Linked DNA regions of Homo sapiens: regions 2, 3 and 4 are each reported to be linked to region 1. Evidence: microRNA targets listed by miRTarBase, many of them from high-throughput screens and not tested one by one. Region 1 holds a microRNA gene; each other region holds the end of a gene's coding sequence.

Region 1 (7,000 bases):
CCCTAATGGACCTATATCTGGTGCTTTTATTACCTGAGAGTGGAACTAACCAACCACTCTGCCCTCTAAGCCTACATTTAAGGCAAATCTTACAAGCTACTCTTCCCAGCTTCAAGCTGGATTTGAGTCAAGATACAACTCAGACTGAAAAATCAGTGCTCCCTAAACTCAGGCAGTTAGCAACTCTGAGACTGTCCAGACTGAGAGGCACTTTAGTTAGCTTGCTAAGCTTCTGCCCACGTATTTCCTCACCCTCTGAACTAGACCAATACCTTGTGGGCAGGACCTTGGTTCAATTCATCTTTATACCCTCACCATCAGACAGTGGCATAAAAAAAAATCTCCGTTTAATGAATGGGTCTATAGAATCAAAGCAATGAGTGCCAAATAAGTGGTTTAGACAATAGTTAGGAATGGGCCCAAAGTTAACGATATAGAATAAAAAGCAAATGATGTAGAATACGGACAAAATCAAGTACAGTTGTGTAGATCTGAAAACTATGTTTAAGTCAGGACTGCAGTTTTTGTGAAAGCATCTTACGGTTTTACGTTATCAATAGGATCAATGGCAATGAGATCTAAGGACTTGATAGGTCTACCCCTTCTCCACAAAAGCAATTACAATCAAAGGTTTCATTCAGAGAAGTTGAGTCCATACAGTAACGGAGATTAGAGCTAATCTTTAATATGAGCCCATTAGATTATATACTACTGTACTCAGCTCCAGCCACTGGACATCTGGAAGGATTCTGGCAAACTGGAACATGTCCTTAAGAGCAATGTGGTAAAAAGTGCAGATTACTAGAGAGAGCAATGTGGTAAAGACTCCAAATATGCAGCAATGGCCTAAACACCGCAGAATTTCTGAATGAAAAACAACATAAAAAAATAAAACTAGGGGCAGGAGTGCTGTTTTCAACTGCTAATTTCAAATGAAAGAAAGCTTGTTTTTCTTTTTTTTTCCTGCAATGCTAGAGGGCAGATGTTAAAAGATTCTGGCTCAATACAATAGTTAATAATTCAAAGTAATTAAAATGACCCAGGTTCTTCAATCGTAGAAGAGGTAAGAAAAAAAAAGAGGGCAAGTTTAATTTTTCTCAAGAGGTGCTTGAACCAAGGTTACACAACAAACCTGGGATAGCCCTTCCTTTGTGTCGGGAATTAGTTAACCTCAGAGTCTCACTTTCCTCATCTGTAAAAGGAGACAACAAGATCCCCTTCACAGAATTGTTAGAGTAGAAATAACATATGAGGCTGGGGGTGGTGGCTCATGCCTGTAATCCCAGCACTTTAGGAGGCAAGGTGGGTGGATCTCTTGAGCCCGAGTTCGAGATCGGCCTGGGCAACATGGCGAAACCCCGTCTCTACAAAAAATACAAAAAAATTAGCAAGGTAGGGTGGCACATGCCTGTAGTCCGGCTACTCTGGAGGCTGAGATGGGAGGATTGCTGGTGCCCGGGAGGTTGAGTGGGCAGTGAGCTGTGATGACACCACTGCACTCCAGCCAGGGTGACACAGCGAGACCCTGTCTCAAAAAATATATATATATATGAAAAATACCTAGCAAGATCCCTGTGGAAGTCCATTATTACCATTCTTACTGCAGACTCCCAAATGATTTGGGTAGGCTTGAGCTAGATGACCCATAAGATGTCTTCTTAGGATGACATTTGATTTGTTCAAATCAGTGGAGGAAGGGGTATAAGGGTTCCAGAAAGCTCCACTGAGGCAGGATTTGGATCTGGAGCTAGTTGTTGCAGGGTTTACAATAGAGATGAAATGGGGCGGCAGCGGGGGAGAGGTTCGTAGAGGGACAGGCTCAGTTAAACAGCAGGATAGAGAAGAGGTCGGGCAAAGACTTTCTCAAGTAGCAGAGACCTCTCAGCAACCAGAAAACATTCCTGAGGACCTACCTGCCTGGAGTGTTGGAAATCCAGTATTCCCTGAATTTGCACAGTACTCTCTGTATTGGAAACACCCCAATTTCCCATCAAAAGCACCAGGTCACAACCTAAACTAATAGTAATTCCACTTTACGTTTATATCGCAATAGTTAGCAATGTTCACAAGCATCTTTAAGCATCGCTGAGTGTGATCTGACCCTTATCACACCCCGGCGTGGCAGCAGGGTCCTAGCCACTAATGTGGTTTGAGCAACAATGGCTTAGAGGCTGGGTAACTTTTCTACAGTCAAACAGATGGTAAGTGGTGAATCTGGGACTAGAAATCCAGGTTTTCGGATGAAGAGACAGTCGATTTACTAGACTACTAGAAGAGAGGAAGGAACATATTCTACCTCAAGATACAATCCTTGGAGGGGGATAAGTAAAGATACTTCTGCATTTTCTCTCTGTACCTCCAAACTGTTTGATGCTGAAACTAGAAACCGGAGCGGGCAGGAGAGGGCAACAAGTATACTTAGGTCTTGGCGAGTGTGTTGGAAGACGGGAACGGGAAGGGGAGGAGAAAGAAAGTAGGAAGAGTCTCAGGAAGATAATTCCTAAGCCAGCCTTCCACCGCGTCGAGGGCAGCAACCACATTACCTCATTGCATCCTCCAAACTCTACGACAAAGGGTGTTACCGTCCCCACTCTGCAGATGAGAAAACTGAGGCTCAGAGGGGAGAGGGAGTGTGTGGGGAAAGCTGGATTCAGAGGCAGCGCTGCCAGACTGCGGAAACACCCAAACCGCCGAGGTCCCCACCCCTCCACGTCGCAGGCAATCCGCATCCACCAGGGCGGGGCGTCCGAAAATCTCCCCCTACCGGGCGGCACAGCCACCCCTCCCCCGGGCCCAGCTCTTCGCCCTCGGTTCGGACGGCCCTGGGGTCTCCGGGACTCCGGTATCCATTGCTCCCCAGCCCCCTCCTCCCCGCCAGTCCAGGCCAGGTCCGGCCGCAGCCGGATCCCAGCAGGGAAGCCGGTGCCGCAGGGTTTGCGCCGCCCCAGCCCCAGCGGGGGCGGGCGCGGGGGAACTGTTCGGGGAAGGGGCCCCGGGGGCGGCCACGAGCCACTCACGCGTCGAACTTGTTGTTCATCCTCTCGCCGCCGCTGTCGCCACTGCCTCAGGGAGTGACTTCCGCTCCACCGGGTCCCTCAGCCTTGGGCCCGGGTACTTCCGGTTTTGCGCGGGGCGCAGCGGAACGTCGGCGCGCAGGCCCGGTTTGGAAGCGGCTATCTCGGGACGCCAGCTCAGGGCGGCTGCGCAGAGGGCTGGACTCAGCGGCGGAGCTGGCTGCTGGCCTCAGTTCTGCCTCTGTCCAGGTCCTTGTGACCCGCCCGCTCTCCTAAGGGAGCGTGTCCTGGCCCCCTCCCGCAGCGGCTCGGAAAAAAGGCAGCACCGCGTCGTTGACGGCGCGGGCTCTGGACTCGCTGCTTGGTAAAAACCTTCCTCTTCCTCCAGTGCGGGACGCACTCTCTGGTATCTCTTTTGACCTCCCGGAGGCTTTCCTTTGTCGGTCGCGGCGCCACTGTACTATGGCATACCTCGTTTTATTACGCTTCGCAGATAGGGCATTCTGAAAACAAATGGAGGGTTTGTGGCAGCCCTGAGTCCAGCAATTGTATCAGCGCCATTTTTCCAACAGCATGTGCTCACTTGGTGTCTCTGTGTTACATTTTGGTAATTCTCAAAATATTTAAAACTTTTTCATGATTTCTGTGTCTGTTATGGTGATCTATGATCAGTGATCTTTGATGTTGCTATTGTCATTGTTTTGGGGTGCCACATACAGCGTCTTTTATAAGACGTGGAACTTAATGTTGTGTGTGTTCTGACCGCTCCACCCACAGACCGTTCCCCATCTCTCTCCCTCTTCTTGGGCCTCCCTATTCCCTGAGACACAACAATATTGAGATTAGGCGAATTAATGACTCTGCAATGGCCTCTAAGTGCTCAAGTGAAAGGAAGAGTCGCACATCTCTCACTTTAAATCAAAAACTAGAAATGATTAAACTGAGTGAGGAAGGTATGTCAAAAGCCGAGATAGGCCGAAGGCTAGGCCTCCTGCGGCAAACAGTTAGCCAAGTTGTAAATGCAAAGGAAAAGTTCTTGAAGGAAGTTAAAAGTGCTACTCCAATGAACACACGAATGATAAGAAAGCGAAACAGCCTTATTGCTGATATGGAGAAGGTTTTAGTGGTCTGGATAGAAGATCAGACCAGCCGCAACATTCCCTTAAGCCAAAGCCTAATCCAGAACAAAGCCCTAACTCTCTTCAACTCTATGAAAGCTGAGAGAGGTGTGGAAGCTGCAGAAGAAAAGTTTGAAGCTAGCAGAGGTTGGTTCATGAGGTTTAAGGAAAGAAGCCATTTCCATAACATAAAAGCACAAGGTGAAGCAGCAAGTGCTGATGTAGAAGCTGCAGCAAGTTATCCAGAAGCTTTAGCTAAGATCATTGACGAAGGTGGCTACACTAAACAACAGATTTTCAATGTAGATGAAACAGCCTTCTATTGGAAGAAGATGCCATCTAGAACTTTCATAGCTAGAGAGGAGAAGTCAGTGCCTGGCTTCAAAGCTTCAAAGGACAGGCTGACTCTCTTGTTAGGGGCTAATGCAGCTGGTGACTTTAAGTTGAAGCCAATGCTTATTTACCATTCTGAAAATCCTAGGGCCCTTAAGAATTATACTAAATCTACTCTACCCGTGCTATATAAATGGAACAGCAAAGCCCGGATGACAGCACATCTGTTTACAGCGTGGTTTACTGAATATTTTAAACCCACTGTTGAGACCTACTGCTCAGAAAAGAAGATTCCTTTCAAAATATTACTGCTCATTGACAATGCCCCTAGTCATCCAAGAGCTCTGATGGAGATATACGAGGAGATTAATGTTATTTTCATGCCTGCTAACACAACATCCATTCTGCAGCCCATGGATCAAGGGGTAATTTCGACCTTCAAGTCTTATTATTTGAGAAATACATTTCATAAGGCTCTAGCTGCCATGGATAGTGATGTCTCTGATGGATCTGGGCAAAGCAAATTGAAAACCTTCTGGAAAGGATTCACCATTTTAGATGCCATTAAAAACATTCGTGATTCATGGGAGGAGGTCAAATTGTCAACATTAACAGGAGTTTGGAAGAAGTTGATTCCCACCCTCATTGATGACTATGAGGGGTTCAAGACTTCAGTGGAGGAAGTAAGTGCAGATGTGGTGGAAATAGCAAAAGAACTAGAATTAGAAGTAGAGCCTGAAGATGTAACTGAATTGCTGCAATCTCATGATAAAACTTTAACAGATGAGGAGTTGTTTCTTATGGATGCGCAAAGAAAGTGGTTTCTTGAGATGGAATCTACACCTGGTGAAGATGCTGTGAACATTGTTGAAATGACAACAAAGGATTTAGAATATTACATAAACTTAGTTGATAAAGCAGCAGCAGGGTTTGAGAGGATTGACTCCAATTTTGAAAGAAGCTCTACTGTGGGCAAAATGCTATCAAACAGCATCGCATGCTACAGAGAAATCTTTCATGAAAGGAAGAGTCAACTCATGCGAAAAGCTTCACCGATGTCTTATTTTAGGAAATTGCCACAGCCACCCCAACCTTCAGCAGCCACCACCCTGACCAGTCAGCAACCATCAACCTCGAGGCAAGACCCTCCACCAGCAAAAAGAGTACGACTCACCGAAGGCTCAGATTGATAATCAGCATTTTTTAGCAATAAAGTATTTTTAAATTTAGGTATGTATATTGTTTTATTAGACAATGCTATTGCACTCTTGCTGGTCTACAGTATAGTGTAAACATAACTTTTATATGCATTGGGAAACCAAAAACATTCATGTGACTTGCTTTCTTGTGTTGGTCTGGAACTGAACCTGCAATGTCTTTGAGGTATGCCTCGACCTACCTCCTTAGGTTGCTGTATGGATCCCATGAGACAGTAACTTATAGTAATGGCAGCTAATGTTAACATTTGAGTGTTTATTGTGTACAAGGAGCTAATCCTCTGCCCTCTGAGGCTTTCAGAGAGGTTGAGAGACTTGTGCCAGATACACAACTAGTAAGGGGCTGGTGGGAACCGGAAATGGCCCCACTGTCATCAGATTCCCTCCCTGATTGAAGTTCTCCCCCACTCTCCCTAACTCCTCTAGTTCTCTATAGCTCTGACTCTGCTCTTGCTTCAAACACACTGTGCATGCACAGACACAGACTCACACTGGAGTAAATAATACGAACTTGCTGGTGATTGAATCCCAAAGACAGCAATCCTGTGCTTGGAGGGAGGGCATATTTCCAAGGTCCCCTCCTGCCAGCATATCCTGTCGTCAGGCCTTTATGTGGCACTTTCACTTTTCTTTTTTCAGTTTTGTAATTTTTTTATTTTTTTTGAGACAGGGTCTTACTGTGTCATCAGGCTGGAGTGCAGTCACATGATCACAGCTCACTGCAGCCTAGACCTCCTGGGCTCAAGCGATCCTCCCACCTCAGCCTCCCGAGTAACTGGGACTACAGGCATGCATCACCACGCCCAGCTAAGTTTTGTATTTTTTGGTAGAGGCCGGGTGTCCCCATGTTGCCCAGGCTGGGTTCCTGGGTTCGTGGGCTCCTGAGCTCAAGCAGTCCACCCACCTTGTCCTCCCAAGGTGCTGGGATTGCAGGTGTGAGCCACCACACCTGGCCAGGAATGGATTATTTTTTGCACCTTATTTACAGATGAGGGAACAGCCTCAGGGAGCATAGGTGACTTGCCCAAGGGTGTCCCCTGGTTACCAGCCAAACTCGTGTGCCGGCTGTAATCTCAGAGCAGGACCTTGCCTCTCCCCCAGGAAGACCCCAGCCTTACTACCTGATTAGTGGGGTCAAGGGAGGCCAGTCAAAGTCTCCTCCTGGAATGAAGAGCTCAGTGGCTCTCTGTTAACTCCACACCTCCTCTTGCCTAGCTCTTCCTTGTCTTAACCATCCTTTGGGAAGAAGGGCCTGTTTTTCAGGCCGTAGAATCTTAGAGTGTCAGATTGGGTCAGAGTCAGGAATTCTGGACTTCAA
Region 2 (7,158 bases), not on the chromosome of region 1:
AACAAGAACAACAACAAGAAGAAGTTGCAGTATGGATATCTTTCACCCTCCCAGGAAACTCTTTCAAACCTAATCTGTACTTTTGCATCTGTATAAAAATATCAGTGAGATGGAACTGTAAATAATTGTTCTGCTGATCTGTAGTGTTGCTGTTACCTTCTGGGTTTCCACATTTTTATTCCGTAGATGTTAATCTCTTTCATGTGCAATCTTTGCTTCTTGTAGGCTATCGCCCCATTCCAGCGGAGACTTATGTAGGAGGGACCTTCCCTCTACCTCCCCCAGTTAGTGACAGGATGAGGAAAAGAAGAGCCTTTGCTGATAAAGAGTTGGAGAACATTATGCTGGAGAGAGAATATAAAGAAAGGGAGATGTTGGAAACTTCTCAAGCTGCTGCTCTGTTTCTGCCCAACCGCATGGTGCCTGGACCTGACTACAATTCCTACAAAAGTGCCTACAGCCCCAGCCCAGTGGAACCACCAAGCAAGGACTTCTGTAATTTTTTGCCCACCTGCCTTGATTTAACCATGCAGTATTCAGGGTCTGGGAATATGGAACTAATTTCTTCTAATGTCAGCGTGGCCACAACTTATAGACAGTATCCCTTGTCCTCAAGATTTTTAGTTTGGCCCAAGTGTGGCCCCATTAGCGACACCCTCCTCTACCAGCAATGCCTGCTAAATGCCACCACCTCAGTTCAAGCCCTGAAGCCTGGGGCCAGCTGGGACTTGAAGGGAGCACGAGTCCAGGATGGACTCAGTGCAGAGCAGGACATGATGCCATCGAAATTGGAAGGTTCCCTGGTGCTGCCTCACACTCCTGAGATCCAGACCACGAGAAGTGACCTTCAGGGTCATCAGGCTGTCCCAGAGAGGTCCGCGTTCTCCCCACCCCGACGGAATTTCTCTCCCATTGTTGACACGGACTCCCTGGCAGCTCAAGGGCATGTCTTAACGAAGATCAGCAAAGAAAACACCAGGCACCCTCTGCCACTTAGACATAATCCATTCCACTCATTATTCCAGCAAACACTTACTGACAAATCGGGTCCTGAGTTGAAAACACCATTTGTCAAAGAGGCCTTTGAAGAGACCCCTAAGAAACACAGAGAGTGTTTAGTTAAGGACAACCAGAAGTACACATTTACAATAGATAGATGTGCAAAAGACCTTTTTGTAGCCAAACAAGTTGGAACAAAACTCTCGGTGAATGAACCACTGTCATTTTCTGTTGAGTCTATTCTTAAGAGGCCTTCATCTGCCATCACTCGTGTCTCTCAGTGAAAGGCTGCTTAAACAGAAAGCTGGATTTTCTGCAGTCTTAGAGCATTATAGCCATTTGCTACTTTTTTTAAAAGTTAAGATGTTTGTGTAAAGAAATTTCTAATGTAAAGATGATGATTTTGAAAAATTTTATATATTCCTAATATGCATGTACTTTTTCTTATCACATATATTTAAACTTACAGATGGAAATTGCCCAATGTGCAAATTGTTAAGTACCACACTTTACACAGCATTTCAAAAAGCAATAAAATTGACACTGTCTTCTCAAAGACCCAATATTTGCCGAAGCAAATAGCTGTCTCTGTCTAGATGAAGAAGCTATTTTTCTATGATTCTGTATATTTGTATATTTTGAAGTACTCTTAATGGTCACTGGGGGCCACAGGAAAACCTTTATAATACTTTAGTTTTGCATTGTGGAGGGCACATAAATTTAATTATTCGAGACTGTTTGAGGCAAAAATCACTTTAAGGAGAACATAGGGCCATTTGCATGTTTACAGTATCTTCATTTCACGTGATTGGACAAAGCTGAATTAATTGGAAGGGAAATCAAGTGTAATGTCTCTTTTACATTACATTAGATGGTTTGGGTTCTTGGAATAGATTTCTTCTGACTCCCTGGGTCCCAGTTTCTTTCCCTGGCGAGGATGTTTATGTGGGGCCCTAAGCTTCCTTTCTAGAAACATTTCTAGTTTCTTTGAACAGTCTATGATTTTAGGTTGCTAGGAGCCACAAATCAGGTTTCCTTTTAAGATGTGGTCAGTACTGATGGGGCCCAAACCTCCTCTCAGCTCTTGTGTGAGTCCACTGTTTCTGAATCACTGGTGACAGCAGGCATTTGGATGCAGGCCCAGTCACAACTCTCATCCGGTCCCCAAGTATCAGCTTTATGCCTCCCACATTTGCACCACTGTCAAAGGCCTTCAGTGTAACTCTCTTCTGACACAAAAACGTTTAGTATTCAGATTGCTTCAGCTGACAGTTGCTGAAGCTTGCAGATGTTTATCACAGCATGAGGGTGGCTTCTTAATTCTTACACCTTTTCTCCCCCCACCCCCCCTTTTTTTTGAGACAAGGTCTCACTCTGTCGGCAAGGCTGGAGTGCAGTGGTGTGATCATGGCTCACTGTAGCCTCGACCTCCCCAGGCTCAAGTGCATGCCTGTAGTCCCAGCTACTCAAGGGGCTCCACCTCCCAGGCTCCACCTCAGCCTCTTGAGTAGCTTGGACTACAGGCATGCACCACCATGCTTGGCCAATTTCTAAATTTATTATTATTTTTGGAATATGTGCAGAGGTAAGTTTTTAAAAATTTTGGTAGAAACAGGGTCTCCCTATGCTTCCCAGGCTTGTCTTGAACACCTGGTCTCAAATGATCCTCGTGCCTTGGCCTCCCAAAGTGCTGGGATTACAAGCATGAGCCACCACACCCACCATTTCTCCCATTTTTAAGTTCTTGTTAATCTCTTGTTTTACTCAGTAAAATGTTAGCTGTTGTTCCATATAATTGATAAAATAAGAGTAAGACTTTTATGAGAGTACTAAGTTCATCTCTTAAGACCTCACCTGTGGACCCCAAGTGAAGTTTAAGGTGTCATAGTCATTCTAATACAAAAAATCAAGAGTCACGTATCTCACTTTTAATACCGCCACAGAGGGAGGTTTTACGTCAAATTCTGCTACTGTCTTCTGGGTAACAAGAACATGAGGTGGGTATGTGGAAGATGCCAAGTGATTCAGCAGTGTGAAAACACTTTGAATTACTTAGAAATGATTTTGCTACTAATGACCTCATGTAAACCTCCTGGGATTCTCTGAATTGTTGCTTAAAATTAGCATCAATTTCAAAAAACAACAAGCCAAACCTTGGGTTGACTTTCAGTTTGTACTTGTAAAATAATACTTGGTTTTATTGAGTCAAATTTAGTTATTTGTATTATTGCAAAAGTCAGAGTGAATGGACGTTTGCCAGAGGCAAAGGATTTGAAAACAGGCAGAGATTCCAATAACTTTTAAAGATTATCATTAAGCGGAAAAATGTTTTCCAGCCAAGTGTGCCCTGATGTCAGAGACAGAATCTAACTCCAGTTTTCCCTCCCAGTCGTCTCTGCTTTGTCTATAATCACTAATTTTTGTCTTTCTATTGGAAATTTACTTTTTTGTTTCAAGTGTTAAATGTATCCTTAGCATTTAATTAAACTGCTTCAAAGGTAATGAGGGGGAACGTATTAGAATAAAAGCACATAAAAAATCTCAGTGAGAGGTCTTCTCATCTAAACATGAATTTTATCTCTTGCTTGCTCCACTTTTGTGTTTTGAATACTTATATTTGTTAAGATGTTTCTCTTTTGTATTCAGTGAACACATGGGGACTTCTTTTCGGTCCTCTCTCTCTGTATCATTTTAATCCCATTATGTGAATCCAGTTGGCTGTGGGTATTAGTGGTTTTTCTCACATTACCAGTGACCAGAATTTTATTGTTCTTGAACATTTATGAGGGTCACTACTTCCCCTGGCAAACTTATTATTATACTATGAATTAGTTCTGCTGTAATGAGTTCTTTGAATTTTAAAACTACCAAAGGCCGGGCGCGGTGGCTCACGCCTGTAATCCCAGCACTTTGGGAGGCCGAGGCAAGCGGATCACGAGGTCAGGAGATCGAGACCATCCTGGCTAACAAGGTGAAACCCCGTCTCTACTAAAAATACAAATAATTAGCCGGGCGCGGTGGCGGGGGCCTGTAGTCTCAGCTACTCGGGAGGCTGAGGCAGGAGAATGGCGTGAACCCGGGAGGCGGAGCTTGCAGGGAGCCGAGATCGCGCCTCTGCACTCCAGCCTGGGCGAGAGAGCGAGACTCCGTCTCAAAAAAACAAACAAACAAACAAACAAAAAAAACTACCAAATCTACCGTCAGCCACTTGTTAAGAGCTTTGTGCTTGGCTCTTTGCTTTTGAAAATCATTTCACTTCCATGAACGTGTCATATAGAATCTTCAGAAAACACTGCCATTGACATTAAATCAAACTTGGGATTCGATTTAAGCATTTTCTCTATCGAAGGCAATAAATGGATACAGTTTTAATAGTTTTCGAGAATGTAAAGGATAGTAAAACGTGGACATTTTTCTCAATTTAACTCACAATACAATAATACAACTCTAATGACATGTTATCCTTCCATCTCAACCCATCAAGCATGATCGTTAGCTGAATTTGCAGTTCTCGAAAGTTTACAACAGTGCTTCTCAAACTAATGGACAATTGAACCACCTGAGAATCCCGATGCTGCTGGGCTTCAGGCCACACTTTGAGTAACAATGCTTGCAGCATTTCTGGTATTTCAACGCACATTTAATATTATCTGCTGTGGATTTTGAGTTGTAATGCAATCATCATAATATTACTAGCATGAGTAAGTTAATATACAGAAATAGTTTTAAAAAACCAAATTTTTTTTTTTTTTTTTACGGAGTATCGCTCTGTTGCCCAGGCTGGAGTGCAGTGACGTGACCTCAGCTCACTGCCACCTCCGCCTCCTGGGTTCAAGCGATTCTCCTGACTCAGCCTCCTGAGTAGCTGGGATTACAGGTGCCTGCCATCACGCCAGGCTAATTTTTGTATTTTTAGTAGAGACGGAGTTTCACCGTTTTGGCCAGGCTGCTCTCAAACTCGTGACCTCCAGTGATCCACCTGCCTCAGCCTTCCAAAGTGCTGGGCTTACTGTTGTGAGCCACCACGCCTGGCTGCCATTTTCCTTTTTACTGAGCCTAGGCCAAGACCCAGGCAAGTCATGCAGCAGACAGTGCCTGCTCCCCACCGTCTCTTTTTTTTTCTCACAAAGGTAGAAGTTGTTTTAATTTGGTTAAAAATATAATATGTATCTTTTATTTTTAACTGTGGGAAAACATAAAATTTGCCATCTTAACTATTTTGAAGCATACAGTTCAGTGACATTAAGTACATTCACATTGTGCAGTCATCACCACCGTCCATCCACATAACGCTTTTCATCATGCAAAACTGAAATTCTATACCCTCAGTAACTCCCTCCCCTCCCAGCAACCGCCTTTCTACTTTCCGCTTCTGTGAATTTGACTACTCTAAGTACCTCATAAAGGGCAATCATACAGTATTGTGTTTTTTCAGTACCTCATACAAGTAAAATCAGACATTATATGTCTTTTTGTGACTGGCTTATTTCACTTAGCATAATGTGCTCAAGGTTTATTATGTTCTAGCATGTGTCAGAATTTTCCTCCTGCTTAAGACTGAGTAGTGTTCCACTGTGTTTGCGTGTGTTTGTATGTATATGTGTGTATGTCTGTGTGTTTAAGCTGCTTCAAAGGTAATGAGGGAAAGCCATTAGAATAAAACCACATAAAAAAATCTCAGTGAGAAGGCTTCTTAATCTAAACATGAATTTTGTCTCTTACTTTCTCCATTTTTGTATTTTGAATGCTAATAGTTGTAAGATGTTTCTCTTTTGTATTCAATGAACGTATGGGAATTTCTTTTCTGTCCTTTCTCTCTGTATCATTTTAATCCCATTAAGGGAATCCAATTGGCTTATTTTACTTATATGAGGTATTTTCCTTATGTAAGGTACTTTTCCGACTCCAAACTAATCAATTAGGTAAGTTATATACACACACTGTATATATATGTTATACATATATATACACACACACTATATATATGTATATATATACACACAGACACACACATACATAAATACACACACAAACACAGTGGAATACTGTGCGTATGAGTGTAAACGGTGTACATGTAGACATATATACATACATACACATGTGTTTATATGTATATATACACACATACATACACATACAGTGCATACACACACATACATTTTTGTTTATCTGGTAATCTGTTGATAGACACTTGGGTTGAATCCAGCTTTCAGATATTTTAAATAATAGTGCCATGAACAAGGATGTCCAAATAGTTCTTTGAAACCCTGCTTTTAGCTCTTTTTGGTATGTATGCCCCTTCTCTTCACCCTGTTCTCACTTCCGAGTTTCACCTGCTTCCTGTCCTTAGGAACTGAGTTATCTCAGGTATACAGTCCTCCCAACTATCCCCTCTCCTGCAGTGTGTGGACCATTTCCACTCAACACTGTTGTTGCCCAGAAAGGCTCCAGTATCAGTTGTGTACCTTTTAGTATGAGCTTAAATGATATCTTCATTTAAAAGCTTAATTCCAATTGTGTAATGAAAGACTGTAACTTGTATTAACAAACTTTCTGGAATTCCTTCTGCAAAGCCTCAGAAGTGCTAAACTGAGAAAATGGCTGAAGGTCAAGATGAAGAAATAAGGAGAATCCACGCTTCCTTGTAGAATAATGGATAAGACTTAGTGTCGAGGCTGAGTTTTCAATAGGGACTAGAATTCTTAGTGGCTCACCTGATTTCATTAATTTTGGATTAATTTTAATATTCCTATTCTATGTCTATAAACTTAGGCTTGTTTCCATGGGTAGGGTCCAATTTGTAGGGCTGATAGTTCATGAAATGGTTGGACCTTGCATTATATAAACTTGGGCCTTTGGCATCCTCTTATATTTATTTTAATAATTATACAAAGCTTTTATCACATTCCACCCCCTTAGTTCTTTTAGTTTGTAACTTGTGATGTCTAAATACATCTAGGGCATGCTGGACAACTGCACACCTATAAATAGGTTGGCATTTGCTATAATGGTAAATGTGAAATAACAACATATGTTTAGAGCCTGGCAATTTACAGAGCACATTGACATTTATCATTTTTTATATTCCTCACATAAATTCTATAGAAATTTGGTAAATGGCCATATGAAGAGATGAATCTATATGTCTGTGGATATGTT
Region 3 (7,135 bases), not on the chromosome of region 1:
CTGAGGCATGAGAATCACTTGAACCTGAGAGGCAGAGGTTGCACTGAGCCGAGATCCCGCCACTGCACTCCAGCCTAAGTGACACAGCGAGACTGTCTCAAAAATCAATCAATAAATAAAAATAAATAAAAACATCCGAAAGGATAACCAATTAACTCAGGTTGCTTGTGGAATGAAACTGAGGGCGCAGTATGAAGGGGATTTTCCTTTTTTCTGTTTTTTATTAAATTATTTTTAATTTTTAGAGACAAGGTCTTGCTTTGTTGCCCAGGCTGAAATGTAGTCGGATGCTAATAGCTCACTACAGCCTCAAATTCCTGGGTTCATGCAATCATCCCACCTCAGCTTCCCAAGTATGTAGGTCTACAGGCTCATACTACCATGCCCAGCTAATTTTTTACTTATTTTTTGAGACAGGGTCTCACTCTGTCACCCAGGCTGACTGCAGTGACATGATCATTGCTCACTGCAGGCTCCAATCACTCGGGCTTAAGCCATCCTCCCACCTCAGCCTCTCAAGTAGTTGGGACTACAGGTGTGTACCAACATGCCTGGGTAATTTTTGATTTTTTTTTTTAAACAGAGTCTTGCTCTGTTGCCCAGGCTGGAGTGCAGTGGTGTGATCTCAGCTCACTGCAATCTCCGCCTCCTGGGTTCAAGCGATTCTCTCCCAAGTAGCTGGGATTATAGGCATGCGCCACCACGCCCAGCTAATTTTTGTATTTGTAGTAGAGATGGGGTTTCACCATGTTGGCCAGGCTGATCTCAAACTCCTGACCTTAAGTCATCTGCCCGCCTTGGCCTCTCAAAGTGCTTGGGATTACAGGTATGAGCCACAGCCCTGGCCTAATTTTCTATTTTTTTGTAGAGACATGGTCTCACTATGTAGCTCAGGCTGGTCTCAAACTCCTGGGTGCAAGTGATCTTCCTCCCTTGGCTCCCCAAAGTGCTGGGATTACAGGTGTGAGCCATCATGCCCAGCCCCTTTTTTTCCTTGTATAACATTCCATTTCTTTTCCTTTTCTTTTTTTTTTTTTTTGAGATGGAGTCTCGCTCTGTTGCCAGGCTGGAGTGCAGTGGCATGATCTCGGCTCACCGTAACCTCCGCCTTCCGGGTTCAAGTGATTCTCCTGCCTCAGCCTCCCAAGTAGCTGGGACTACAGGCGTACGTAAGCACACCCGGCTAATTTTTGTATTTTTAGTAGAGAAGGGATTTCACTGTGTTGGCCAGGATGGTCTTGATCTCCTGACCTCGTGACACACCTGCCTGGGCCTCCCAAAGTGCTGGGATTACAGATGTGAGCCACAGTGCCCAGCCTCTTTTCAATTTTTTTTTTTTTTTTTTTTTGAGACAGAGTCTTGCTCTGTCACCCAGGCTGCAGTGCAGTGGCGTGGTCTTGGCTCACTGTCAGCTCTGCCTCCCGAGTTCACACCATTCTCCTGCCTCAGCCTCCCAAGTAGCTCGGATTACAGGTGCCCACCACCACGCCCAGCTAACTTTTTGTATTTTTAGTAGAGACGGGGTTTCACCATATTAGCCAGGATGGTCTCGATCTCCTGACCTCGTGATCCACCTGCCTCAGCCTCCCAAAGTGCTAGGATTACAGGCGTGAGCCACCTCACCGGCCTCTTTTCAATTTCTGACACTTTATAATTGTATGTACTTATGGGGTACAATGTGATGTTTTTGCATACATGGATACATTGTATAGTGATCAAATCAGGGTATTTAGGACAGCCATCTCATTATGAATTTGTAATTTTTTTGTGGTGAGAACATTCAAAACCCTCTCTTCTATTTTGTTAATAATATACCATACTTTCTTGTTAACCATTGTCACTCTACTGTGCAATAGAACACCAGAACTTATTCCTCCTATCTAGTTTTGTACCTCCAAACAACCTCTCCTCAACCTCCTCTCCTCCACTGGCTCTGCAACCTCTGGTAACCACTGATCTGCTCTATACTTCCATAAGATCGGCTTTTTCTTTTTCTTTTTTTTAAGATTCCACGTATCAGTGAGAACATGTGGTATTTGTCTTTTTGTGTCTGACTTATTTCACTTAACATAATGTTCAGGTTCAAATAATTTGTTTCAAATGACAGGATATCATTCTTTTTCATTGCTGAATAGTATTCCACTGTGTAGATATACCACATTTTATCCATTCATCCATTGCTGGCATTTAGGTTGACTTCAATTCTTGGCTATTGTGAACAGTGCTGCAATAAACAAGGGAGTACAGATACCTCCATTTACCCACTGGTGGGATTGCTGGATCATATAGTGCTCTACTTTTAATTTTTTGAGGAACCTCCACAGTTTTCCTTAATAGAGGTACTAATTTACATTCCCACCAACAGTGTGTAAGGGTTCTATTTTCTCTACATCCTCACCAACACTTGTTTTCTTTTGTCTTTTTGATAAGAGCTATTCTAACTAGAGTGAGGTGGTATTTCATTGCAGTTTTGATTTGCATTTCCCTGATAATTAGTTATAACATTCAATTTCAATTCCTTTTTTTAAAAACCATGAACATATACTCTTTTTTTTTTTTTTGAGACAGAGTTTTGCTTTTGTTGCCCAGTCTGGAGGGCAATGGTGCAATCTTGGCTCACTGCAACCTCCGCCTCCCAAGTTCAAGTGATTCTCCTGCTTCAGCCTCCCGAATAGCTGGGATTCCAGGCATGTGCCATCACGCCTGGCTAATTTTGTATTTTTTAGTAGAGATGGGGTTTCTCCATGTTGGTCAGGCTGGTTTCGAACTCCTGACCTCAGGTGATCCACCCGCCTCGGCCTCCTAAAGTGCTGGGATTACATGCATGAGCCATTGTGCCTGGGGAACATATACTTCTATAATTTCTATTCCTTTAACAATTAAAAACCTTTTAAGGGGCCAGACACGGTGGTTCACACCTGTAATCCCAGCACTTTGGGAGGCCGAGGTGGGCAGATCACGAGGTCAGGAGATTGAGACCATTCTGGCTAAGATGGTGAAACTCCACCTCTGCTAAAAATACAAAAAATTAGCCGGGTGTGGTGGCAGGAGCCTGTAGTCCTGCCTGGGTGACAGAGAGAGACTCCGTCTCAAAAAAATAAAAAAAAAAGTTTTAAACGAGAAACAATTATTCTCTGCAGCAAACTCTAGATATATACCCTCATTCTGTAATCCTGTGTGAGTTAGTTCAAGCATATAAATAAATTACTTAAGGCCACATGAATTTGAAGTTAATACAGGTGAGCATTTCTATAGTCTCGGGAAAAAATTTTTTTTAACTTTTTTTTTTTTGAGACGGAGTCTCACTCTGTCGCCCAGGCTGGAGTGCAGTGGCGCGATCTTGGCTCACTGCAAGGCCCGCCTCCTGGGTTCAAGCAATTCTTCTGCCTCAGCCTCTGGAGTAACTGGGACTACAGGCGCGTGCCACCACGCCTGGCTAGTTTTTTGTATTTTTAGTAGAGACAGGGTTTCACTGTGTTAACCAGGATGGTATAGATCTCCTGACCTCGTGATCCACCCACCTCAGCCTCCCAAAGTGCTGGGATTACAGGCGTGAGCCACTGCACCCGGCCTTAAAACTTTTTTTGATAAAGAAAACAAAACAGGTTGGATGCAGTGGCTCACACCTGTAATCCCAGAACTTGGAGAGGCCAGGAGTTTGAGACCAGCCTGGGCAACATAGTGAGACCCCATCTCTACAAAAAAAAATTTTTTTTTTAAAGAAAACAAAGCACACTATTTGTAGAAATCTACAAAAGGGTAAAGAAGGAAAAAAAAACCCACTGGCTACCCAGAGAAAACTTGAGTTAATGTTTTTGGGACATTTCCTGCAAAAGGCAAAGTGCCCAGTGAAGTTGAACCTGAAGCCTTGTCATAATCTTTTGCTGATGCCTTGATGCCATTTTGGGGGATGGGGGAGGTGGCCTGGCAGTTTTGTCTTCCTTTGTTTGGAAAATCCAGCAGAATGGGTCTTGCACATTGCAAAGGCAAACATTCACCTATTATTCTTGGAGAAAACAGTGAATTTACCTGAATTCTGCAGGAAGATGTTGCAAACTGAGATATGAAGTGTTCTGCCTTAGTAAGGATCAAATGGTCTTTTAGCCTAACCTTTCTTTGAAGTGCAAGAAATTGATTCCCCAGGAGTGTCTTTAAACTCAACTGCATGTCCTCCTCCACAGAATCATTTTAGATAAAATACTGGGTCTGTGTGAAGGGCACACAATTATGTAGGCTGTGGGGTGGCTCATCTGGATCCAGGGTCTCTTAGCAGAATGCTGGGGGATTTAGGAAGTTTCCCACCATGGAACAGTTGGTAGGCAATGGCTGCCTCCAGGCGTCAGGTGTGACTGATGCCACCTGCCCTGCCTTGGTCAGTCAGCCCACATTGCCCTGGAAACCAAGGTGACGCCTTGTATTTGCAAACACCAGAGAATAAAGCCTAGGCAGATGGATCAGACCCTGGTGGTAAGAATGCGGATGGACCCTCTGGTCTCAGCTTGAAAGAGGTGGAGTCCTGCATCAAACCTACTATGCCAAACTCCTTCCCCAGAAGGAAATAGGAGAAATATCCTGCAGGCAAACAATTCTGTTCTAACTAGGAAATGAGGTAATCTACCAAGTTCAAGCAGAGAAGAGGGCTTGAAAAACCAAGAAATAAAAAGTGGGAAGGAGGTAGACCTCTTGAAGCCCACCTGGCAAGAAGCAGATTTACAGCTTGGTAATATTATGCTTAAGCCCATAAAAGCAGAAAAGATAGGACAGTGGGATAGGAATCTGGAAGTAGAAGACAAGAGGTAAGAAAATGGGATACTGACTTAAAAAAAAAAAAAAAAACCCAGACATCTGACTTGACACTCTCCGTCTTGTTAATTTCTTCAATGATGATATTAACTAAGAAGGGGTAGGAAGAGAATTGGGGAAGGGGTAGGAAGAGGAGAATGCTGAGAAGAAAGTCTGGCTGATGGGACCAGCTCGTCTGGATTAACTTTCTAATCTTCTATAGAGGAGGAAAACCAAGGTCTGGAGAAGAGATGCAACTCTACTCAGAGTCTGCATGTCCCCCCCAGCCTGGGACACGTGGGGCCTGAGTGCATGTCCACAGCCATCTTCCCCAGCTCCCTCTCCAAGGGGCCACCCAGCCTCGCGCCGTGCCCAAGCCCTGGCCCAGGAGAATCTCTCCGAGCCCAGATACCCTTCCGGGCCTAAGCAGGCCCTACTCTCCCAACCCTCAGTTACCTTCTGGGATGACTCCAGCCAGTTGCCCTGGTGAGGGGGCTGTGTCACAAGGGGGCCTGGGGTCCCTCAACCTGGCACCCATGCAGTGTCCCCCGACCTGGCCTGCCTGAGTCCTCCCACACAACAAGCCGACTCAGGGGCAGGGAGGGGGCCTCCACATTTTATTAGGGATACGGCAGAAGCAGAGGCAGGAAGCAGAGCAGCCGCATTTTAAACAACACATAAATTAACCGCAGTGCGGGGCTGGGGGCTGGGGGCTGGGCCAGGCGCTTCAATATATAAAAACAACAACAAAAAAGACGGACGAACAGACCCCAAAGGCATGGGGCAGAGGAGGGCAGCACCATCCAGACAGCAGGGAGGACCAGGGCAGAGAGAGAAGGCAACTTGTCCCCCTGGCCCCCAAACTCCACCAGCACGGGGGCCTCCAGGAGGGCCTCGCGAGGGCTTCGGGGCAGAGGAGCAGCCGGGTTGGGCAGAGATGGCACGGCTGGTGGGCAGGAAGCCCAGCACCACAAGATGGCTCAGCCTGAAGTAGGGACTGGAGGGCTGCGACACAGTGGCCTTTAACCCCCAGTCCCTTCCAGGAAGAGCCTTACTCTGGGTGAGAGAAGGGACCAAGGGCGGGGTCTCTCCCTGAGCTGAGCACGGTCATCTCATCCGCCGAAGCAGTGGGTGGTGGGGTGTGCCAGGGACCCCCTTTTCACCTTCTTATCCACCTGCCTCCTTGGTCCCTTCAGGGAGGGGTCCCCGTCTCCGGGGGCTGGGCATGAAGAGAGCCGGTCCAGTCTGTGGTCCCCAGCTCCAGCGGGGCCGTGGCGTGGCGCAGCCCCTCAGCCCTGACTCCCACAAGAGGACAGCGAGTCGTAGAGTGAGTCACTGAGAGACTCCGAGGTCTCCAGCCCTGGGGGGCCCCCGCTGGCCACTCTGCCTTCCTCGGCCATGTCCGAAGTGCTGGGGGTGCGGCTACCCCCGAAAGGTGGGCCCTGGGGCGTAGGGGACGGGCGGCTGGGCTCCTGGCTTCGCTTCCGGTCCACGGGCAGGGCCTGGGAAAGGAGGGGCAGCTCGGGAGGAAGCTCCTCTCCACCTTTCGGCCCAGCCTCAGAGGCACTGAGCTCTGAGGGGCGTCTGTGCACCTGATGGGGGGCTGCTCCAGAGGGGGCCCAAGGTGGGGTATACTTCAGAGGAAACAGGCTGGAGGTACAACTGAGAACAGTCCTACAAGGTTCTGGGGAGGGACAGAAACCTTTCCCCACGAGAGAAGTGCAAGGAGGGCAGTGGGGAGGGCCGCTCACAGGGCATCCCAGGGGTCCTCCTCCCAGAGGGTGCAGCACTGAGACTGTGCGACACACAGGCCGTACCTTACTGGAGAAACTGGTCTCCCCACATCACTCCCTCCTGCTCCCGAGTCCTTTCCCTTTCCTCTGCTGCAATTCTCACCATGGGGGTCCTGGGCAGCCCCTCCAGTTGTCGGGGTGGGCACATGAGAGGGTCCGAGGAGCTGCCGGCTGCCCTAGTATTGGGGAAGGTCCAGTTCTTGGCCAGCTGGACAGGAGGGGTGGGGCCTGGGTCTTCACAGGGATCTGTCCAGGAACAAAGGGAAGGTGGATGGAGCTGCCTGGGCAGCTCCAGGATGCCCAGGGGCATCCCACCCTCCCACCTGGACACTCACCATCAGGACAGGTCTCATGGCCCCGGTGGCCCGGAGCAGCGGGTAGCAGTGCAGGGAAGGCTGGCATGCTGGGGTGCCGCCCACTCACCAGCAGCTCCTCTATGCCTGGCACCTCCCGCTCCAGTGTGTGGGCGCGGCGGGGGACTTTGGTAAGGGGTGGGGGCCGAGCTGGGGGTACCCCAGGTGGGGGATCCAGCCGCGGTGGCTTGGTCTTAGGAAGATTCT
Region 4 (7,158 bases), not on the chromosome of region 1:
GGTGGATCACGAGGTCAGGAGTTCAAGACCAGCCTGGCCAAGATAGTGAAACCTCATCTGTACAAAAAAAATACAAAAATTAGCCAAGCTCAGTGGCAGGCACTTGTAATCCCAGCTACTCAGGAGGCTGAGGCAGGAGAATCGCTTGAACCCAGGGAGCGGAGGTTGCAGTGAACTGAGATCACGCCATCGCACTCCAGCCTGAAGGGTTGGGTGCAGTGGCTCATGCCTGCAATCCCAGTAGTTTAGGAGGTCAAGGTGGAAGGATCGCTTGATTCCAGGAGTTCAAGACCAGCTTGGGAAACATAGGGAAACCTCATCTCTGAACAAAATTAGCCAGGCATGGTAGTATGTGCCTGTGGCCCCAGCTACTCTGGAGGATAAGGTGGGAGGATCTCTTGAGCCCAGGAATGCAGAGACTGTAGTGAGCTGAGATTGTGCCACTGCACTCCAGCCTGGGTGACACAGTGAGACTCCATCTTAAAAAAAAAAAAAAAAAAAAGAAAAGAAAAGAAAAGAAAATGTTCAAAGGAAGTTCTCTAAATAGGCTTTGAAGTTCAGAAAGGAAAGAAGAATATCGGACTGATTAAAAATAGGGGTAAAAATACAAGATTGTCCTTCTTACGCATTTTAACAATCATCTTTGATGCCTGACACCAAAAATCATGGCATCTGATGTGGTGCCCAATATAGGCAGAGGAAAGACTTAATGATAATTTAAAAGTGGAGAGAGAAAGAGACCTAAGTAAAGGTAACGCTCTTGCATTTCACTCAAAATGTTGAGCTGTTGATAGCCTCAGACCGTGGTGCCTTATGCAGGCAGTCATGTATGTACACAACCATGCAATGCTAACAATGGGGTACGTCCTCAGAAATGCATCGCTGGGTGATTTCACCATTGTGCGAACATTATAGAGTGTGCTCGCACAACCCTAGATGGTGTCGCCTGCTGCACACCTGGGCTATGTGGTACAGCTGATTGCTCCTAGGCTATACACCTGCACAGCACGGTACTGCTCTGAACACTGCAGGCAAAGGTTGCACAATGGTAAGTATTTGTGTATCTAAACATATCTAAAAACATAGAAAAGGCATAGTAAAAATATGGAGTTTTAATGTTATGGGACCACCATTGTATATGTGGTCCACCGTTAACTGAAACATCATTATGGGGCGCATGGCTGTATTGTAAAACTCAGTGTCTGTCTGTCTGTCTCTCTTTCTTTGCCTCTAGTGGCAAAAGGTACACCTTCTCTCCTCGCTCCCCTAATTGAGGTTCCTTTTTGGTCACCTTGACAGTGGGGGAGGGAGTATGAGACTAAGGCAGGCAGGATGCTGTCTCATGTCCTCCATAACTGAATGGACAATTTCTGCATCTGGGTGGCCCTGCCCCACCCACTCCCTCTCCTCTTTGGTCTTGTAGAACATTTTTGGCTGTCATTTCCCAATCCAAAGAGGGAAGGTCGCCCAGTGGATAGTGAACTGTAGGAACCTGGGGGAATACCTGTGCCGTGGGTTTTCCTCTGGGGAAATGTCTCTCCCCTTCTTAGTCCTAGCATCCCACGAGGGCTGATTTTTCCCCGGGCTACAGAAGGGGACACAGCCCAGCTGGTCAGAGCCTCCTGTGCCCAGTTGGGACGAACAAGGGACACAGGAAGGATCCCTGAGACCCAGTCTGGGGCTCTTGCTGGAGTTGTTGGTAAGAGAAGAGAATTGTCCATCATCTCGGCTGAGGCTGCTGGGGCCATCTTGTCACTACAAAGGGAAAAGATGCTTGAAAATGGACAGACAGACAGATGATGCCTGGTGTGGTGCCGGTTCCCAGGTCCCGCATGCCTAAAGCCCGGCACCTCCTGGCCTTCTCAGTAAAGGTGAGCCAATAAGTTCCCTTGTTTTTCCTACCTCAAGTCAGTTTGAGTTGTGTTTTCTGTCACCTGCGACCACAAGAGTCCTAATGCCGGGGTGGCGGGTTCCAGCCCCCTCCTTGGTTAAGAGGCCTTTCCCAGCCCCTGGGCACTTTGCCAGAATCCCCAGGAGTCAACAGGCCTTGAGGCGACGAAAAGGTTCTCGCTTTACAGATGGAGAAACAGGCCCGAAGAAAGAGTGGGATTCACTCAAGGCCTCCCTGTCCCTGGGATCTTTTGAATTCCATTTTGGAGTCTCACCAGCAGAGAGTCTTGTTCAACGGAAACAGTTTTTTGCTCCAGTCTTCTCTCATTTTTAACTCCATGTCCGTGGTGTGGGCCTAAAGCTCGGCTTGCCAGACAAAACACAGGACACCCGATTTGATTTGAATTTGAAATCAGCAATGAATAACTTTTTAGTATACATATGTTCCAAATATTGCATGGGACACATTCCTACTGAAGAAATGCATTGCTCACCTGAAATTCAAATGTAGCTCAGATGCTGTATTTTTATGTATTTGGCAACGCTATCTAAAGCAGGGAGAGGGGATGCAGGAAGAGGGCAAGGCTACCTCTTTATGAGGAGTAGGGGAAGAGTCGGGGTAGGGTGGATGCTAAGATGCAGCCTCAGAAAAATAATCTTCCCCATCTCCTGCCAGAATGCCCGCATCACCCACGGTCTGTCATCAGGGTTTTGCAGCTGCCAGGTCAGTAAAAATGTGGCCTGGAGAGCAAACATATTAACCATCAACAGTCTAGTGTGAATTAGTTTACGTACATTCACTTGTTATCCTCAGCTGTGCAGAAGGGAGAAGACTCCAGAGAGGGAGGTGCTGATAAGCCTCTTTCTTCATTTTCTCCCTGAAGTGCTGGTCTTCAGAGCACAAAGGATGGAATTTGAACTGGTTCCCTGCACACTAGAACCACAGGGGAGATTTTTTTTTTTTTTTGAGAAGGAGTCTTGCTCTGCCGCCCCGGCTGGAGGGCAGTGGTGCAATCTCGGCTCACTGCAAGCTCTGCCTCCCGGGTTCATGCCATTCTCCTGCCTCAGCCTCCCAAGTAGCTGGGACCACAGGCGCCTGCCACCATGCCTGGCTAATTTTTTGTATTTTTAGTAGAGATGGGGTTTCACTGTGTTAGCCAGGATGTTCTCAATCTCCTGACCTCATGATTCACCCACCTCGGCCTCCCAAAGTGCTGGGATTATAGGTGTGAGCCACCGCACCCGGCCCACAGGGGAGCTTTTAAAAAATCCCAGTGTCCAGACCACACCCATTCCCATTAAATCACAATCTCAGCTGGGCACGGTGGCTCATACCTATAATCTCAGCACTTTGGGAGGTTAAGGCAGGAGGACCTCTGGAGCCCAAGAGATCGAGACCAGCCTGTGCAACATAGCAAGACCCCATTGCTACAAATTAAAAAAAAAAAAATGAGCTGGGCATGGGTCTGTGGTCCCAGCTACTTGAGAGGCTGAGGCAGCAGGATCCCTTGAGCCCAGGAGGTCAAGACTGCAGTGATCAGTGATTGTGCACTGTACTCCAGCCTGGATGACAGAGTGAGACTGTCTAAAAAAAAAGAAAAAGAAAGAAAGAAAGAAAGAAAGAAAGAAAGAAAGAAAGAAAGAAAGAAAGAAAGAAAGAAAGAAAGACAAAAAACTCAGAATCTCCATGAGTGGTTTCCAGCTATCATCTTTTTTTCAATGTGCAGCCAAATTTGAGATCCAGTGGACATAATAGCTCAGGACACATGGTTCTATCCTTGGTGAGGTTTGCTGTGGATAGGCAGCCGGCTCTGTGCCAGGAATCCCGCAGACATCATTTCACTGGATTTCTGTATAGCCCTACCATGCAGACCCTGTTAACCTCATGTCCGCAGAAGGATGCAGGCTCAGAGGGGTGATGTGACTTACTCAAGGTCACACAGCAATCAAAGGGCCCTGCCCACAGCCCCTGAGCTGCCTCCAGGCTGTGTGGCTCCAGGAGAGTGCCTTTCCTGTCTGGCGCCTGCCACGGGTAGAGAAGGCTGTGTCCACAAGCATCATCCAGCCCTGCCTGTCAGCTCTCTAATCAGCATGGTTACATGACAAGGACACCAAAGAGTGAGAGGGGCATCTTGATTGGCAGATGGAGACAGGGAACGCCCCAAGGGTTAACTCTAGATGTCCTGGGCATGTCATCAGTGAGAATGACAAGTGGAGGTCCCTTTTACTGGAGAGCAGGGAGGCTTCACCTGAAATAGCCTTCGTAGACTTGAACAACGACATTACCCCCCTCGCTGCCAACGTAAGCACCTGGGAACTACTGCCCTGAGTGACCCAACCCTCCTCCCCGACTCCCTCCACCATCCCTAATCCCTGGCAAATGCTCATTTGGAATCATGTTTCATGCACACGTTGGTGTCCGGTTGCACCTGCTCCTCCTTGCACTCAGGATGTGGCCCACATCTGGTCACCCTGACCGCTAATTCTTGCCTTCCCAGCCTGCCGTGCAGCTGGGGCTGGCCTGGTCCTGTGACGCAAACCTGGTTCTTAGGATGTAGCCGGAATTTGCTGAAAGGTTCTAAGGAAGTTTTGGCTTTCTTGATGAGAGAGGCCCAGCCCGAAATGATTCCCTCTCCCTGAGTACAGGGCGCTCAGCTGAAGCCACAGCAGCCCTGGCGAGACGAGGCCCCAGCAGGACAGGGACACCAAGGGAATCACACAGGGCACAGCCCAGGCATCGCTGGGTCACTGGGTCCCTCTGGATTTGTGGCTGGACAAAAAGAAATCCTATTTGCTCCGGTCAGTGGTCCTCCGTTAAGGGTGATCTTGCCTCCTAAGAACATGCAACAACTTCTGGAGGTATTTTGGTTGTCACAACTTGAGGGTTTCTACAGGCATCTAATGGTGGGGGGTGGGGGGGGCACTGTTAAATGCAGGAACGTCTTTCCCCAGGGAAGAGTGCTGAGGGCGAGAGGCCCTCACTTAGGCCGCTGTTCCTTGGTGTTTGTTTCCTGCAGCCAAAAACACTCCTGGCAGAGAGGCCGCCCTAACCACTGAGACTGCTAGAGAGAAGGTGGACTGAGGAAGCCAAGCCCCTAGGCATGAGGAAAGGGCAGGACAGCAGGGCCCAAACCAGCCTCCACCACTAGAGCTGGCTGGCCCAAACCCGCTAACTTCCCACCCGAGCTTTTGGTGTCCAGGGCAGACACACCGAGGGTTTCCTCCCGTGGACGGTGCTGCCCCCCACCAGCCCCTTCCCCACCCTCCCTAACATTCTAGGCGGATAATAGAATGCACCTTTTGATACAAACAAACTCCATTTTAATATACAAAACAAACCTCACTTACATACATAAATATAATTTGGGGGCATAAATAATGTAAGAAAATAAGAGATGTACATATCAAAATAAATTACTCATAAATATCATGTTGGAAAACCAAGTGCTGGGGAAAGGGTTCTAGGTCTTCCCCCGCTGCTTCCACACAGCAAGTTATTGACAAGACTTGGGGTCTTCAAATCTTTTCTTTTCCTGATTTTTGAACAAGAAGTGCAGGTTGACATAAGGTGGGGGGCCTGGGAGGCCCCAATCCATGGGGAGGCATGTGAGGTGGGCAGAGGGCTGGTGGGCTGGGAGATGGAAGCAGGTGACACCGGGACAGCAAGTTATTCTCAGGACAGCATCCATGACAGAACTGGCCTCAGGGGGAATTCTCAAGTTGTCCCAGGGCTGGAGTGGGGCTCCAGGCTTCCCCTACTCCTGAAGCCTGGTGGGCCATGCCTGCTCCAGTCAGTTCTGGCCTGGAGGGATTTGGGAAGGGCAAATGGTCCCTGGAAGTAGAGATATAGATCAATTCCCACATGGGGTTGAGTGAAATTTACCTGCTGTTTTACAGAGTGGATCACCTGTTCCTGAAATTAAAACTACTGCCTGTCTTCTGGCTGCTCCTGGGGAAGTGATGAGAAAAAATTAGAGAATTTCAGCTTGACATAAGAATTTTTCCAAAGGAAGTGAGTTCCCCATCGATGGAGGTATTCAAGCAGAACTGAGACAGTGCAGCAGCTTGTCCAGCAACCTCGAGGGAGCAGAATGGGGGCCCAGGCAGCAGCTGGGCAAGCTACAGGCTTACAATGTTATGATCAGACAAGTCTATTGGCTAGAAACTGGCACTGCCAATGGAAAACTCTGAATATGTACAACTTCTAGATGTTTCTTCCTAAAGCTAAACAGAACGTGGACTCAGGACTGTTCTTGTAGAAGCACGTCCCCCACGCTGCAGGTACCACAGCCCCTGGCAGCAGTGAAGAGGCCCGGGCATGGTCTCAGTTACTTCTCAAAGCTGGGACTCCTCACGGCCTCCAGTCCGGTGACAAGCCCAAATGGGTCCATGCTGTCGGTCTCCAGGGGCGAAGAGAACATGTCAGATTCCAAGTGGCCCCTGAGGTCCTCAGGCTCCTCTGGGACCATGGGCAGCATGGGCAGGAAATGAGAGAGTGGAAGAAAGCCTCTGTTCTTGTACAGCTGCCGCTGTTTGGCACTGCTCAGGGAGACCGGGAGGCGGTGCTTCTCGGATCGGTACACATTGTAGCCATCTGGGCGGATCTCCTCCTCGAAAGCACAGTCTTCCTCCGAGTACTGAAGCTGCAGAGAAAACAGGCAGCTCTGAGCAATCCACAGTGGACAGGGAACACGGGTCCACATGGACGTTTGTGCTACAGACTGTCCCTGGTGGCCACCAGCAGTGACCTTCCACATAAGCATCACTTGCATGTTTTATACATACTTCCTGATGTACACACTGTACGTGTAAGTATATATAAAATATACCTTTATATATGTAAGTATATATAATATATAATGTACTTTAAGGCCAGGCACAGTAGGTCACACCTGTAGTCCCAGCACTTTGGGAGGCCCAGAGCAGATGGATCACCTGAATCCAGGAGTTTGAGACCAGCCTGGGCAACATGGTAAAATTCCATCTTGACAAAAAGTACAAACATTAGCAGGTCATGGAGGTGGGCGCCTGTAGGCCCAGCTATTCGGGAGGCTGAGAGGTGGGAGGATGGGTTGAGGCTGGGTAGTCAAGGCTGCACTGAGCAATGATCATGCCACTGCACTCTAGTCTGGGTGATAGAGCAAGACCCTGTCTCAAAAAAAAACAAAACAAAAAACCCACAACTATATATATACACAGAGAACACACACACATATATAAATGTACTGTAAGTGTAAGCATATATAATATGTACATTATGTTAATATA

Evidence for each region. Region 1 holds the annotated microRNA hsa-miR-5001-5p (AGGGCUGGACUCAGCGGCGGAGCU, at 3,209-3,232, shown strand). A microRNA usually pairs through its seed, bases 2 to 8, with sites in the 3' UTR of a target mRNA and lowers its output. Matches are read on the target gene's strand: a 7mer-m8 pairs with bases 2 to 8, a 7mer-A1 pairs with bases 2 to 7 and ends in A, and an 8mer does both.
Region 2: miRTarBase lists DMRT2 as a target of hsa-miR-5001-5p. The part of its 3' UTR that is shown has no 7-base or 8-base seed match.
Region 3: miRTarBase lists NCKAP5L as a target of hsa-miR-5001-5p. Seed matches in the 3' UTR shown: 7mer-m8 at 5,999-6,005, 7mer-m8 at 5,493-5,499, 7mer-m8 at 5,486-5,492 and 7mer-m8 at 5,479-5,485.
Region 4: the mRNA of FGF19 is a reported target of hsa-miR-5001-5p. Seed matches in the 3' UTR shown: 7mer-m8 at 5,619-5,625, 8mer at 5,518-5,525 and 7mer-m8 at 5,511-5,517.

The regions. Positions count from the first base shown.
Region 1 is chr2:232,546,762-232,553,761 of GRCh38, reverse strand. It overlaps MIR5001 (microRNA 5001), which reads left to right and starts at 3,189; the gene lies at 3,189-3,288. It overlaps CHRNG (cholinergic receptor nicotinic gamma subunit), which reads right to left. Exons shown (of 12, transcript NM_005199.5): 12 at 5,647-7,000. It overlaps TIGD1 (tigger transposable element derived 1), which reads left to right and starts at 3,205. Exons shown (of 1, transcript NM_145702.4): 1 at 3,205-7,000. The coding sequence starts at 3,880. The coding sequence ends at 5,655. EIF4E2 (eukaryotic translation initiation factor 4E family member 2) reads right to left here and starts at 3,073. Exons shown (of 7, transcript NM_004846.4): 1 at 3,018-3,073. The coding sequence starts at 3,037. RefSeq lists a silencer at 2,693-3,062.
Region 2 is chr9:1,055,991-1,063,148 of GRCh38, forward strand. DMRT2 (doublesex and mab-3 related transcription factor 2) reads left to right here. Exons shown (of 4, transcript NM_181872.6): 4 at 226-1,562. The coding sequence ends at 1,283. Among named protein-coding and RNA genes, the nearest start is that of DMRT2, 9.2 kb to the left of the region's middle.
Region 3 is chr12:49,785,768-49,792,902 of GRCh38, forward strand. NCKAP5L (NCK associated protein 5 like) reads right to left here. Exons shown (of 13, transcript NM_001037806.4): 11 at 6,911-7,135; 12 at 6,679-6,821; 13 at 5,385-6,284. The coding sequence ends at 6,072. Among named protein-coding and RNA genes, the nearest start is that of NCKAP5L, 39 kb to the right of the region's middle. RefSeq lists an enhancer at 4,980-5,822.
Region 4 is chr11:69,693,044-69,700,201 of GRCh38, forward strand. It overlaps FGF19 (fibroblast growth factor 19), which reads right to left. Exons shown (of 3, transcript NM_005117.3): 3 at 5,195-6,533. The coding sequence ends at 6,219. Among named protein-coding and RNA genes, the nearest start is that of FGF19, 7.4 kb to the right of the region's middle. RefSeq lists a silencer at 6,238-6,532.